Homo sapiens: one gene and its partners. The protein of the gene in region 2 interacts with the protein of the main gene of each other region in a biochemical or structural test. Each region holds a gene or a part of one and is shown on either strand. Other genes may lie near its edges.

The links.
Region 1: the proteins of NUP155 (region 2) and NUP98 form a complex in vitro, tested with the Homo sapiens proteins (2 studies listed by BioGRID).
Region 3: the proteins of NUP155 (region 2) and HDAC4 form a complex in vitro, tested with the Homo sapiens proteins (one study listed by BioGRID).
Region 4: the proteins of NUP155 (region 2) and CDC42 form a complex in vitro, tested with the Homo sapiens proteins (one large-scale study listed by BioGRID).

Annotation. Positions count from the first base shown.
Region 1 is NC_000011.10:3,696,555-3,700,054, forward strand, and holds part of NUP98 (nuclear pore complex protein Nup98-Nup96 isoform 1 precursor), read right to left. Parts: intron 2,795-3,500; coding exon 2,528-2,794; intron 1-2,527. UniProt on the Homo sapiens protein: Plays a role in the nuclear pore complex (NPC) assembly and/or maintenance. NUP98 and NUP96 are involved in the bidirectional transport across the NPC. May anchor NUP153 and TPR to the NPC.
Region 2 is NC_000005.10:37,305,058-37,308,709, forward strand, and holds part of NUP155 (nuclear pore complex protein Nup155), read right to left. Parts: intron 2,376-3,652; coding exon 2,240-2,375; intron 154-2,239; coding exon 1-153.
Region 3 is NC_000002.12:239,135,521-239,139,020, reverse strand, and holds part of HDAC4 (histone deacetylase 4), read left to right. Parts: intron 1-3,500. UniProt on the Homo sapiens protein: Responsible for the deacetylation of lysine residues on the N-terminal part of the core histones (H2A, H2B, H3 and H4).
Region 4 is NC_000001.11:22,097,709-22,101,860, reverse strand, and holds the end of CDC42 (cell division control protein 42 homolog isoform 1 precursor), read right to left. Parts: 3' UTR 501-4,152; downstream 1-500. UniProt on the Homo sapiens protein: Plasma membrane-associated small GTPase which cycles between an active GTP-bound and an inactive GDP-bound state. In active state binds to a variety of effector proteins to regulate cellular responses. Involved in epithelial cell polarization processes.

The DNA.
Region 1 (3,500 bases), on a different chromosome or scaffold from region 2:
TCCCAGCACTTTGGAAGGCTGAGGCAGGCGGATCACCTGAGGTCAGGAGTTCGAGACCAGCCTGGCCAACATGACGAAACGGCATCTCTACTAAATATACAAAAGTTAGCCGAGTGTGGTGGCACGTTACCTGTAATCCCAGCTACTCAGGAGGCTGAGGCAGGAGAATCGCTTGAACCCAGGAGGCAAACGTTGTAGTGAGCCAAGATTATGCCACTGCACTCCATCCTGGGGTACAGAGCGAGACTGTCTCGAAAACAAAAACAAAAACAAAACAAAAAACAAAAAAAAAGGGGGGGAGTAGTAAAGCAAAAGCTTTTAGTAACCTAAAAGGCAGTACCTTTACCAGAGGTTTAGCCTTACAGTCAAAATAAACAGGAAGAAAGTGGAGTTTATGAATCAACAGCCCTAAGAATCTGACTCTGGCATGCCTTAAGATCCTCTCCTACTACATGTTGGTGTCCTGGTGAGCATAACCTTTTTTTAATGATTCATAATAAGTTCATACAAGATCAATCCCAAAGATAAATTCTCACTGTACAAATGCACAAAGACCATAAATAGTACCAGACGGAGGCTGGATGTGGTGGCTCACGCCTCTAATCCCAGCACTTTGGGAGGCTGAGGCAGGAGGGCTGCTTGACGCCAGGAGTTTGAGACCAGCCTGGTCAACATACAGACCCCATCTCTATTTAAAAAATAAAAAGAAAAGAAAACAGGAAGCTACCAGGCTAAATGTGTAGTGACAGTGGAATGCAACAAGCCCTTTATATAGCTTACTGATTCTGGCTTTTCCTGTGATTTGTTCCTTATAATCCCAAAAGTGGCAAAACTCTTCAAAATAAATCCAGTCGATGGCTCCAATTAGTTGGCTTTGGATAAATTAGGTTCCAACAATCAAGGTTTGAATAAGGATCTGATCATATTAGATTAAGCTGAACTATGCCATCCTGTATTCTTATCAAGACTTTATGGCCAGGCACGGTGGCTCATGCCTGTAATCCCAGCACTTGGGAGGCCAAAGTGGGTGGATCACTGGAAGTCACGAGTTTGAGACCACCCTGGCCAACATGGCGAAACCCTGTCTCTACTAAAAATAAAAAAAAAGACAACTAGCTGGGCATGGTGGCAGGCACCTGTAATCCCAGCTACTCAGGAGGCTGAGGCAGGAGAATCGCTTGAACCCAGGAAGTAAAGGTTGCAGTGAGCTGAGATCGTTCCACTGCACTCCAGCAGTCTGGTAAACACACAGACAGACTCTGTCTTAAAAAAAAAAAAAAAAAAAAAAAAAGATTTATATCTAGGCAGTCATTAAGTACTTGCTGAATTGCCTCATTAGTGAAAGGGAACTTAAAGAAGTAAATATATGCATATAAATTCCTTTTAAAAAGCCAGTGAGTACCTCAACCCAGAAATTCAACTTCTATATATTTATTTGAATGAATTGATATAGAACATATTTTATAGCAATTCAGAGTACTGTTTATAGTTTTAAAAAAAGTCTCAATGTGAAGGAAGAAATTTACTACTATGGTACATTTATACATAAAAGAATGCTAAGAAGTATTTGATAATTATCTGTATTACAGGGCATTTGTAATGTGCCACATGAAAAGAACAGAATATAATACACAGCAGGATATCACCTTTGAAAAGTTCACAAGCATATGTCACAGTGTCTGGACATATTTGTATGTATTACAAAGTAAAGAATTAAGTACAAATTGCACATTAAAATGTTTGCAGTGAGTAGTAGTCACAGGATTTGGGTGATTTTGATTGATAGCTTATCTATGCTTTCTAGTTTTATTACAAATGTAATATAAAATTTAAATTTTAATCAAGTAAACAATGTTTAAGGTCCTAAAAAAAGAATTAGAAGACATAGTTCGGCTGGGTGCAGTGGCTCACACCTGTAATTCCAGCACTTTGGGAGGCCAAGGTGGGTGGATCACCTGAGGTCAGGAGTTCGAGACCAGCCTGACCAACATGGTGAAACCCTGTCTCTACTAAAATACAAAAATTAGCCAGGTGTGGTAGCAGGCACCTGTAATCTCAGCTACTTGGGAGGCTGAGGCAAGAGAATCGCTTGAACCCAGGAGGAGGAGGTTGCAGTGAGCCGAGATCGCACCATTGTACTCCAGCCTGGGCAACAAGAGTGAAACTGTCTCAAAAAAAAAAAAAAAAAAAAAAAAAAGTCATGGTTCCTATTCTATAGGAATAGGTGGGTGTGATCTACCCACCTTGGCCTCCCACAGTGCTGGAATTACAGGCATGAGCCACTGAGCCCAGCCGCACTATGTCTTCTAATTCTCTGTTTAGGACCTTAAACATTGTTTACTTGATTAAAAGTTAAATTTTATGTTATATTACATATTCCACGGGAACCAGCAATCTTTCTGGGAAGTCCGCAATTAATACTCATAGGCTAGAAGCCAAAGGGAAATGCACAATTAGCGGGGAGCGGTAGGAGGCAGTGAGTAGGAAGGCGACAGAGGCGCAGAGAAGGACCATATGCCTTCCCCACCTGACTGCTGGGCCAGAGAGCAGGCCTCACTGATCCTTTTGCCTGTGAGGTAGCTGAATACAGCCTCCACAGGGCTGTTTTTTTGGGTTAAGGAGACTTCCTCTTCAATCTGAGGTGTGGCAGTACAGGATAGCCAGCGGGAGAAAGCTCTTCTTCGCTCCAGAATTTGAATGTATTCACGGGGTTCATTTAGCTGGCTGTCAAGCTCCTTCAGGTGGCCCCATAGGGCTTCACATAGTGTCCATGTCAGGCTCCAGTGCTTCACAACTAAGGCAGGAAGAGAAAAACAATGTTACGAGACAAAGTCTTACAACAACTTCACAGAGGGCATCCTTCTAACTGTGATGTTAAAAATACATAAATTAATAGACATCTCAAACAACCACTCAAGCTGATTACCCTGAATCTGTCTCTACCTCACTCAACTTCGTCTTACAATTTCCAGAAGTACATAGTATAAATAAATGCTTGCTCATATCATGTTTCTGTGGTACTTACATAACAAATGTAACCGTTAAACAGGTTCCCCAAGCCTAATTATGGCTAGTGTCATCTCAGATGATATCTACTTTGATCAAATTCTGTCTATAAAAATCAATCTACAAAAGTACTGTTTATCATTTAAGCCACTTACAAGTATGCACTGGTAAAATAACTTACACATTTGAAAAGACAATGAGACGATTAAGTAAATACAAAGAACTGAAGGAACATAAACAAATCTCAAAACGTGTGGCATAGGACATTCTAAAACAGCCCATTTTTCAATAAACGTGATTTGCTAAACAAAATGATTTTTCTACTGTTTGAAATATTAATAAATTAGATAACCCCTTTATCAAAGTATTGATTCAGAAAAACATGGTCATGATAGATGAGAAAGGTAATCTTGAAAGAAGCCAGGAAGAGGAATTACAACAAAGCTGTTGAGAAGACCAACAGTACTTGAGCTGGATATGGAAGAATGGATAGG
Region 2 (3,652 bases):
TGATGTCCTGCTTCTTCATTACTCAGCATATTTGGATCAGATGACAACACTGGAGGACCAGGTTTTTTGGGTACACTGGGAGACTGAGGAGCGGCCTTACTTTGATTTACCAGTTCTTGAAGTGTGTCTGTAATGCATTTGTAACTGTTTAATCTGAAAGAAAATGGAAAAGGAACAATTACATTATTTAACTAGAAAGCAAATGATGGTAAGTGTGGTGACTCACGCCTGTAATGCCAGCCATAGGGAAGTCAAGGTAGGAGGACGGCTTGAGGCTGGGAGTTCAAGACTAGCCAGGGCAACAGAGCGGGACCACGTCTCTACAAAAAATACAAAAAAATTGGCTGGGCACAGTGCCTCACACCTGTAATCCCAGCACTCTGGGAGACGAAGGCAGGGGGACTGCCAGAGGTCACGAATTTGAGACCAGCCTGGCCAACCTGGTGAAACCCCGTATCTGACAAAAATACAAAAATTAGCCGGGCTTGGTGGTGCATGCCTGTAGTGCCAGCTATTCAGGTGAGTGAGGCACAAGAATTGCTTGAACCTGGGAGGCAGAGGTTGAGGTGAGCTGAGATCATGCCACTGCACTCCATCCTGGGTGACAGCAAGACCCTGTCTCAAAAAACAAACGAACAAAAAACAAAACAAAACGAAACAAAAAATTAACCAGGCGTGGCGGTGTGCACCTGTAATCCCAGCTACTTGGGAGGCAGAGGCAGGAGGATCGCTTGAGCCTAGGAATTCAAGGCTGCAAGTGAGCTATTATCATGCCACTGCACTCCAGCTCAGGCAACAGAATGAGGCCCTGTCTCAAAAACAAAAAACAAAACCCCCCAAAAACAAAACAAAACAAATAACAAAAAAGAAAGCCATTGATTTACCTTACCTAAGTATATACAAGGATTTCAAGACTATTTGGCAGAATAGATGTACATATTTGGCATTTAAAATAATACAAACCATATACTTTTTCAATAAGTTTGAGAAGTGTTTGGTTAAACATTAAAAGGGTAAAGTCATTAAATATAGTAATAAAAAAATATGTTTTCGCCAGATGTGGTGGCTGACACCTCTAATCTCAGCACTTTGGGAGGCTGAGAAGAAAGGATTGCTTGAGCCCAGGAGTTAAAGACCAGCCTGGGCAATATAGTGAGGCCCTGTCTCTACAGAAATTAAAGAGAAAAAAAAAATTAGCCGAGTGTGGTGACATGTGCCTGTAGTCCCAGCTACTCAGGAGGCTGAGGTAGGAGGATCACTGGATCACTTGAGCCCAAAAGGTCAAGAGTACAGTGAGCTATGATGGTGCCACTGACTCCAGCCCAGGAGACAGAGTGAAGCTTTGTCTCAAAAACAAAAACAAAAACAAAACAAAACACCCTCCATATATATATGTTATAGAAAGGTTATATATTTCTTCTTTGTTCCGAGACGGAGCCCTGCTCTGACGCCCAGGCTGGAGTTCTGTGGTGCAATCTCAGCTCACTGCAGCCTCTGCCTCCCGGGTTAAAGCAATTCTCCTGCCTCAGCCTCCCAAGTTGCTGGGATTACGGGTGTGCACCACCACGCCTGGCTAATTTTTGTATTTTAGTAGAGACAGGGTTTCACTATGATGGCCAGGCTGGTCTCGAACTCCTGACCTCATGATCTGCCCACCTCAGCCTCCCAAAGTGCTGGGATTACAGGCGTGAGCCACTGTGCCTGGCCTATATTTCTTTTAAGGACACACATTTCCTTTTTAACAGTCTCAACAAATTTGGGAATACTTAAAAATTATCCTTTAAAATGAAATCCTACTGGACATGGTGGCTCATGCCTGTAATCCCAGCACTTTGGGTGGTCGACCTTTACACAAAGAGGCCAGACACGGTGGCTGATGGCTATAATCCTAGCACTTTGCAAGACTGAGGTGGGTGGATCACTTGAGGTTAGGAATTCAAGACCAGCCTGGCCAAAATGGTGAAACCCTGTCTCTACTAAAAATACAAAAATTAGCCAGGCGTGGTGGTGTGCACCTGTAATCCCAGCTACATGGGAGGCTGAGGCACGAGAATAGCTTGAACCTGGGAGGCAGAGATTGCAGTGAGCCAAGATCACACGACTGCACTCCAGCCCAGGTGACAGAGCAAGACTCTGTCTCAAAAAAAAAAAAAAAACATAAAACAAAAAACAAAAAACATTATGCAAAGAAAAGTCTGTATCCATAAAGATGACAATCTGCTAACGTAATGGAATGCACCTTTCTTGGAAGGCCTGAAGTCCAACTATGTCTTCTTCTGGTTCTCCATGTTTATAGAAATGAAGCCCAAGACCTTGAGGATCTTTTTTCTCTGCAGCCGTAAGAGAAAGTTCCACCACACCCTCATAAAATCTCACTGATGGGAAAGAAAAGAATGAAGACCTATGACTTACTACTAAGTTGGATACATTTTTCCTTAGCTGGCACATGAAAATAATGATCAAGGTTATGTCTCTACTGTACAATAGTCACCCTGCTAACATAAAATATTTCTGATAGGTCTTCAGAAGGAAAAGGTCTTAATATGCCTAAAAGGCAACTGTTAAATATATTTCTTCATTGGGGGCCAGGTGTGGTGGCTCACGCCTGTAATCCCAGCACTTTGGGAGGCTGAGAGGGGGCAGATCACAAGGTCAGGGGTTCGAGACCAGCCTGACCAACATGGTGAAACCCCACCTCTACTAAAAATACAAAAATTAGCTGGGCCTGGTGGCATGCGCCTGTAATCCCAGCTACTCAAAAGGCTGAGGCAGGAGAATCACTTGAACTAGCGAGGCAGAGGTTGTAGTGAGCTGAGATTGCACCATTGCACTCCAGCCTGGGTGACAGAACAAGACTCTGTCTCACAAAAAAAAAAAGAAAAAGGAAAAAAAAAAATATATATATATATATATTTCTTCATTGGAAAAAAAAGATCCTATTTCAAATAACAAAAAGGAAAGTTTTAGTTCCCTACTGGGGGGAAAAAAATACCTTGGGATTCAAAATAATACCTGTGCAAATAGTTATGGCCTTTACATTATGTTAGATTTGATTTAAAGTAATTTTTTAAAAAGTAAGCAGATTATACCTTAAAACTCAATAAAAAATTTTAAATATCTGAAAAATAAATGTAATCCAGAAAGCAATGTAAAACATACAGTAATTGAACTGGACAAGAACTGAAACTCTAATGCTAAAAAGTTATACATTTCGGCTGGGCGCAGTGGCTCATGTCTGTAATCCTAGCACTTTGAGAGGCTGAGATGGGTGGATCACCTGAGGTCAGGAGATCGAGACCACCCTGGCTAACATGGTAAAACCCCACCTCTACTAAAAATACAAAAATTAGCTGGGCAATGGCCGGGCGCGGTGGCTCACACCTGTAATCCCAGCGCTTTGGGAGGCTGAGGTGGGTGGATCATGAGGTCAGGAGATTGAGACCATCCTGGCTAACATGGTGAAACCCATCTCTACTAAAAATACAAAAAAATTAGCCGGGCATGGTGGCAGGCGCCTGTAGTCCCAGCTACTTGGGAGGCTGAGGCAGAATGGCGTGAACCTGGGAGGCAGAGCTTGCAGTGAGCTGAGATCGCACCACTGCACTTCAGCCTGGGTGACAGAGCAAGACTCTGTCTCAAAATAAAAAAAATA
Region 3 (3,500 bases), on a different chromosome or scaffold from region 2:
GGCAAGCTAGAGAGGAGTCAGGGGACGCTTGGAGTCCCTAGGTGGGAAAGATGTCAGAGACGCAGGAGCTGAGTGGCAAGGCAGGGAGGAGTGGCGCCCAGGCTGGCCGAGTCGCACACTGACCATACTCGGAGGCTTTCCAGGGCAGCAGGTCCGAGGACCTCGCTCCGTGTTCCTTGAGCTCCTTTGCGCCCCCTGCCTTTATCCCACACGTGTCCCGAGCGCCTTGTGCCAGGCCCAGGGACAGAACCAGGCAGGCAGCAAGGACCTGCCCCACACTCCACACAATGCCCCACTGACAAGGAGAGGCCACCCCCAGAGCACGGGGAAGAAGAGAGAGGCAGAGAGAGGCAGTCCCGCAGGCTGAGTGGTGCCCTGGGCCTGGGTGGGCCTGACTGCAGGGCAGGGGTGGGAGGGGTACGCTTTAGCAGTGAGTTTTCTGATGAGTTGAGCTGGAAATGCTGTGTCTGCTTCATGGGGCAGAGTTCTACTGAGTGGGAGGTTCTTTCTGAATTCTCTCCAACTTACAGAAGGCTATAATTTATTAAATATAGTTATTGACTTTCCTTCTTAAATATTTAGAAATGAATCCTGCCCTTCCAAAGGATTGGCAAATCTTAGCTGGGATACAGAGGCATGAGTGTTTAGCATTTTCATTTCAAATTTCAAGACCGTTTATGTATAAACATTTTTAGAGACTAGAATTACTGCTCAGAACGAATTTTGCCCTTTGTCTCCAGGCTGCTTAATCCCCAATTTCTCTTACTCTTTCTACTTCATACATCGATTTCTTTTATTACCTGTCTTCTTCAGCCTGCCAACTTCAGTACTTATTTAGATGATTAGAAGTTTTAACAGTCCTCTGTATGGCTGTGGTCATAGCTGAGGTCTACCAGTAATAAGCCTTATAATGCAACCTAGAAATTACTTCCTGCCCTGAGGTTAACACTGGTTGCATCTTGTTGATTGTGGTCCTAGATACATGTTTTTATTTAAAATGAGGCACTTATGTACATGGTAGTTAATATTGGAACAGTGCCTTGTTTGGGTGGGTCTGCATCATTCCAGTTCTGTGTTAATTTTTAGAAATCACGATACGTAAATGAAGCTACTGGAAATTAATAGAACATGTAGAAGGAGTTACAGGAAATACCAAGAGGTGCCATTGTTCATGTTCCACATCAGATGTTCATTAGAGTGGGCACGGGCAGCCTTTGCATGTTGGATCACACCCAGGCGCCCTTTCTGGGTTTCAGTATCTCTAGAGTTGGACGGGTCTGTGAGAACACCTGTGCTTCATGGCCAGGGGCTGGCTCTCCGTTCTCACGTGGTGCAGAGTGTAGTGAGCTTGCCCGTCAGAGGGGGTGTCTCGAGTGGATGAGGATGTGGGGGGAGCAGGGGCCTCCCAGCCTGGCTCTCAGCACTGCCTTTTCTGTTCACCCTGGGGTCCCTAGAAACACTACTGTACCTTGAAGGCCCCCTGGACCCAGGGAAGCCCAGTGTGCCGGGCACCTCCTCCTCTACAGTGCCAGGGAGGCCCAGAGTGCCGGCACCTCCTCCTCTACAGGCCAGGGAAGCCCAGTGTGCCGGCACCTCCTCTACAGGGAGGAGGCAGGGCTCAGAGAGTGAGAGGAAGTCGCCCAGGTGCGTAAGGGGACAGCTCCTCTGTGGCCGCTGCTGCTGTTATTTACACGCGTGCCTGGATGCTCTGACCTCAGGCCCGCGGACTTTCCCTCTGAGCACATGCTGAGATGCGGTCCGGGGGCGCCAGCCTCAGAATGCCTCCCGCAGGGCTCGGCCCCGAGGCAGCAGATGCCAGAACGCCCTGCGATTTCTCAGGTGGACCAGTCGGCATCTCCAAGGAACAAATTCTCAGAAGCCTCCTTTAGTTCCAGAAATGGGCTTAAAAAAAACCTTGCTTACAAAGGAAATGAAAACTTTGCAAACATTAGAACGTCTCCTTATTTTGTTCCCAAATGATAACACAAGCATTTCCTCTACAGCATAACTTACTGATAATTCTTTAACTTTTGACAAAAAAAAAATTGCCTAGGAAAAATGTTTTCCTCAGTAGCCCTTTAATCATTCCTTACACAATGTAATATGTGAGCAAATCTAAAGGGAGTTGCAGGGTTTCCTCTGGGGCGAGGTGCGCCGTGAGTTTGCTCCTAAGTGAGAAGGCCGGGCTTTCTGTTCTGTAGGAACAGCCTGAGTGTAAGTGTTTGTCAGGAGAAGCGTTTCTTCCTATCCCCAATGGCCAGTCATATGTCTTTGGGGAAATGTCTCTTCAGATCCTTGGCCCACTTTTATACTGGCTGCTTCAGGTTTTGCTGGTGAGTTGCTGGAGTTCCCGCATGTTCTGGATACTGCTCCCTTGTCGGATGAATGGCTTGCACATGTTTCCCCTTCCCACAGGTCGTCTCTTCACTCTGGTGATTCTCTTCCTTTGCTGTGCAGAAGCTTTTTAGTTGAGCAGAGTCCCAGTTGCCTGTTTTCGTTTTTGTTGCCTGTGCTTTTGAGGTCTTAGCCATGGATCTTTCACAATAGCCAAGAGGTCGAATCAACCTCAGTGTCCTTCAGTGGATGAATAGACAGAGAAAATGTGGTGCTGTACACAGTGGAATACCATGCAGCCATCAAAAAGGATAGAACCCTGACATTTGCAGCAACATAGATGGAACTAGAGGCCCTCATGTTAAGTGAACTAAGCCAGGCACAGAAAGACAAACATGGCATTTTCTCATTCATCTGGGGGAGCTAAAAACGTTGCTGTCATGGAGGTAGAGAGTATAATGAAATCTGTTATCTATTCATTATTAACGTTAGCTTCTGGCAAGGGGATTTCTATCTGCCAAACCCCACTAACTAGCATGATTACAACAACATTTTATTCCTTCTCTTTGTTTGCCCATTCATTCAGCAGACATTCCTTGAGTAGCTACTGTGTAGGGGATATAGTGGTGATAAACTATTGTCCTTTTTAGCAAAACACGTTCATTCTACAAGCAAAAAGATGTTAAATATCACAGTAGTTCAAGTCCTTGGAGACTGTTGCTGCTGACTCTTCCTGTGTGGCCTTCTAATCTTTACTCCTGGCTTGTGTTTGCTTTATCCAAGCCCATTCTTTAAAAGGTACATGATCTATAACCTGTTTTTCTAACTTAATGTATCATAAACAAGTGTCCAAGTAATCAGCTAGATCGTTCCCAACCCCCAGAGCATCCCGGTGTGCAATGCCCCTCCGTTCTGTTAACACCAAGGTGTCGGGGAAGCCGCATAGCTCTGCCATGCCTGCTGGGTGCTCGGCCCTGCAGCGGAGGCTTCATGGGCATCAGGCCATCTCCTTATTTCTTAACGTTACATCCCAAGAGTGGAGCTCCAGCATCAAAGGTTAGACAGATTTTGAAGGCCTTTGACATAGATTGCCAAATTGTCCTGCAGAAAGGGTGCCACTAACTGATTTGTGATTCACCCAACAGTGTTCGCCGTTCCTCTAGGCC
Region 4 (4,152 bases), on a different chromosome or scaffold from region 2:
GTATTTATCCTATAAACAAAAACCAACTCGGTCTTTACTGGTTACTGCTATACATTTTTTTTAAAACTACAGACTGAACCAAACTTAGAATCTCTCAACTATATCAGTAAAAATCTAAAAAGATTCTCCATATAGGGATAATAATCACAAAATTCTTGAAGACTCACTAGTCTACTTGTATATTTAGTATACAGGTTTTATAGATTTTTGTTAACTACCTGTCAATAGCTAGCAAAAAATCCTGAAACTTAAGAGGCTACAGAAATGAACCTGCACCAGTCGTGTTCAAATCCCTTGGCAACACCTTAGAGGTTACTAGGGCTGCACAAAGTTTATCTCTGTTTGCAACAAGGAGGCAGTGGGAAGAGTAAAGCTGCTGGGCCTGCATTAACTACAGCAACTCTGTTTCATACACCTTTTCTGTTTCTACAGTGGGGCTCTATATAAGCTTTTGTTTATGAAAAAGAAGGCCTACTGAAAAAAAGACACAAACCAAAAAGGAACAGAAACTCATTTTATTGAGATGAGGAAACCAAGGCCCAAAAAGGTATGGCAACTTGCCCAAGGAAACTCTGGTGCCTCAACTAGAACCTGGATCTTCAACTTCCAACTGAGAGCTCTTTCCAACAGTGTTATTACTACCATGGGAGAAATGAAGATATAGTATCAAACACCATAATGCAAGTTAGGAGCAAAAACAGGACTTGATTTATCACGCTATATGTACCAGGGTTCACGGAGTTTTCTAGCAGCAGAGGAGATAATCACAAACTCAGCACCCTCCAGTAAAGTCATTCTTACAAGAAGCCAGTGAAGAATTCACAGGTGCCTGCCCACCCTTCACAAGCTGCCAAGAGATGGACCTAACTCCTTAACACCAATAATTCCAATACAATTGTGAAATCCTCAAGTTATGGAGAAAAAGGAGCATTTCTTTAAGAGCTTCAGAATCAAGACAAAAAAAATCCCTCTCCCATCAAACTAGTGCAAACCTTACAAAGGAGGGCTAAGAAGCTAGCACTGGGGCCCCATGGTGGGTCTGGAACTCCATACACATTTCCAGCCCTATCAGAGTTGGTTAGAGATGAAATTAAAAGCCTTACTCTACTCCTGGCAATGAGTATGAGGAGGAAGCCCCTCACTGATACAGCAGTTTAAGACCCAGAAGTCAACAGGGTTTTCTGGTCCTGATTTGATGTGAGCCAACAATGATGACAGTGATGAAGACAGCTGCTATCTACCCCATTCACAGATGAGTACCTTCTACTTGCCAGGCACTATGCTAAGAACCTCACATATAGCAATTCATGTCACTCTCACAACTCTTGGGCAAAGTACAGCTATTTCCACTTCACAGAGAATGCAACACTCAGAGCATTTAAGTTACTTGCCTGAAGACATAGATCAAGTTAGTGGCAGAGCCAAACTCAAATCCAAAGCCTATGCATGTACTTCGCACAACACCAACAATGCCAAGTTGTTTCGCCTCAGTTTTACCATTTGACAAATGACATCATCCATCCCTGCCTCTTTTACAGAGTTGTACTGAGGTCAAGTGAAATCACTAATACAAACATGACTTGAAGTTTAGGAGTTTACTACTTAAACTCAAAAACTGCATGAGTATCCCTGACCGTTTGCAGAGAAGATGAAGGCAGAGCCCCAGTCATCTCCCTGTGCTTGGGTCAAGCTAATGAAAGAAGGGAGCCAGGTTGCAGAGCTGGCTCCAAGCCTCCCTCAGACCTTGGGTATTCACTAAGGTGCAACTTTCTCACCAAACAAACCCTGCTCTTCCCAACTCACAGGCCTATTATACAAAAAAAAAAAAAAAGAAGAAGAAGAAGAAGAAAGAAAAAAAGGCCAGCTGAGCAGACTCTAGAGACAGACTGCTTAAATTCAAATCCCAGTTCCCTCACTTACTAGCTCTGAATTCTTGGACAAGCTAGCTCTGAATTCTTGGACAAGCTTTGTATCATAACATGCCTCAGTTTCCACATATGAAAAAATGGGGGATTGCTGAGAAGACTGAGTTAATTCACACAAAGGCTTAAAAGAGTGCCATGTAGAGAATAAACACTCAAATTTTAAGAAGGACCAAATGACACAATGGGCAAAGGCACCCTACAATCCTCTAAAGCTACACCTTTAGATCCTCTAAAGGAAGAAGGTGTCATATTCTCTCATGCTACAACTGATCCTAAAGTCACCTCCCCCAAAAAGCTCCTACCCAACAAACCTACCCTTACAGATGAAGCCTTTTATGCTGCTTTGCTTGCCCTGTGCACTATATGATGCTTCAACTACGATTTTCAGCTTTGTAATTAATCATATACATTTTATTTCCACATAAGATATGTAATGGTAAGCACACAGTTTCCAAAATCAGACAGATAGGATTTCCAACTCTGGCTGCATATACCAAGCAATTATGATGTCTCAGAGTCCTGCTCCATAAAAAGAAGATACCTGTACTATCAACCTCAGAGCTGTTGTGAGTAGCAAGTGTGATAACACCATGTGCTTAACACAGTGCAAAGGCACACAGTAAGAGCTCAATTAACAAAGCTGTTATTTCGCCAGAATATGTCCCCATTTCTTTTATGATTCTCAGCAGTTAGGGCAGAGCCCTCCTGGATGTGATTAATATTCCTTCCTTAATGCACCAATTTATTTATGGGGGCCTTGAGGCTACCTTTCTTCCTACTGCACCCGTCCCTATGCCGTGGTGAAGCAGGGCCCCCAGCCACTCTGCAAACATGCCTGGGCCCTCCTTTGTTCACATTCCCTCCACTCAGAAATCCATACCCAGCTGGGCACAGTGGCTAATGCCTGTAATCCCAGCACGTTGGGAGGCCGAGGTGGGAGGATCAGCTCAGGAGTTCGAGACCAGCCTGGGTAAAATGGCAAAACCCCCTCTCTACACAAAATGCAAAAATGAGCCAGGCGTGGTGTCACACACCTGTAGTACCTTCTACTCGGGAGGCTGAGGCGGGAGGATCGCTTGAGCTGGGGAGGTCAAGGATGCAGTGACCCAAGACCACGACACTGCACTCCAGCCTGGGTGACAGAGTGAGACCCTGTCTCCAAAAAATAAATAAGTAAAGCTGTAATGACCTATAGCCCAGAAATACTCTAAAATTCATGTCTGACACAAATAAAACCTTAAGAAATCATCTCATGTCATGGTTTTCAAACCAATGGCACATTAATCTGATGGGCTTTAAAGAAGTGATGCCTCTAAAAAATAATTTATAAAAATTTAAATGGTGCTCAGATCCTATTTCAAAACAATATGGCCCTAAGCACTGCTTTCCTTTTTTAAAAATAAGCTTCTTAGGTAACATTACACAGAACCCTTTTAACTTTTTCAAAGTTTCAAAAAGGTTCTATCACCAAGGTGTGCACTGGTCCCTAAACATAGCTCAACAAAGTTCTATCTGGGAATCTTTTAGAAATTAGATTGATTCTCAGGTCCCATTGCATACTTACAGATTCAGAATCTCAGGAGTATTTTTTTTTTCAGCCTTCCCATCTAATTGTTCACCAACCAGGAACCCGAACTGCATTTGAGACCTCAATGATAACTAAGTATGCAATTTTACAGATAATGAGGCCAGAAAAGTGGAAGCTACCTGCCAAAGGGCACGTTGTTAGGAGTAATAATGCAAACTTCATCAAAATAAAAAGATGCTTGTTCAAAATGTAGGCTCCTAGTCTCTACCCCTAAAGATTGAGAGTAAATCCTACAGGGTCCAGGAATCCTGATGACTGAGACAAGTGATCCACAGTTCACACCGAGAAAAAGCACTGCTCTGCGGGACGCATCAGAGCAAACAGAACAGTTATGATCCTGTGCTCTATTGTAATAGGGTTGAGAAAATGCTATACTTACCTTAGCCTTGAAAATCTGTCACTTCTACTTCAGAGATGCATGGTGGACCCAAAATCCATCGAGCATTTATTTGCTTTTGGGGAAATCACCTATGAGACTATGACACTGCATTAAAATCAGGGCTCTCCTCCCATCCTGACCCCACTAATCAGCAATGTGCTTTTAAACCTTCCACTGTACTCCTTTATTAGACATACTTCACATTTTTCTATAACGTAGGGCTTTAAAGACTCACTGGATATGCCTCTAAGAGGCAAGTG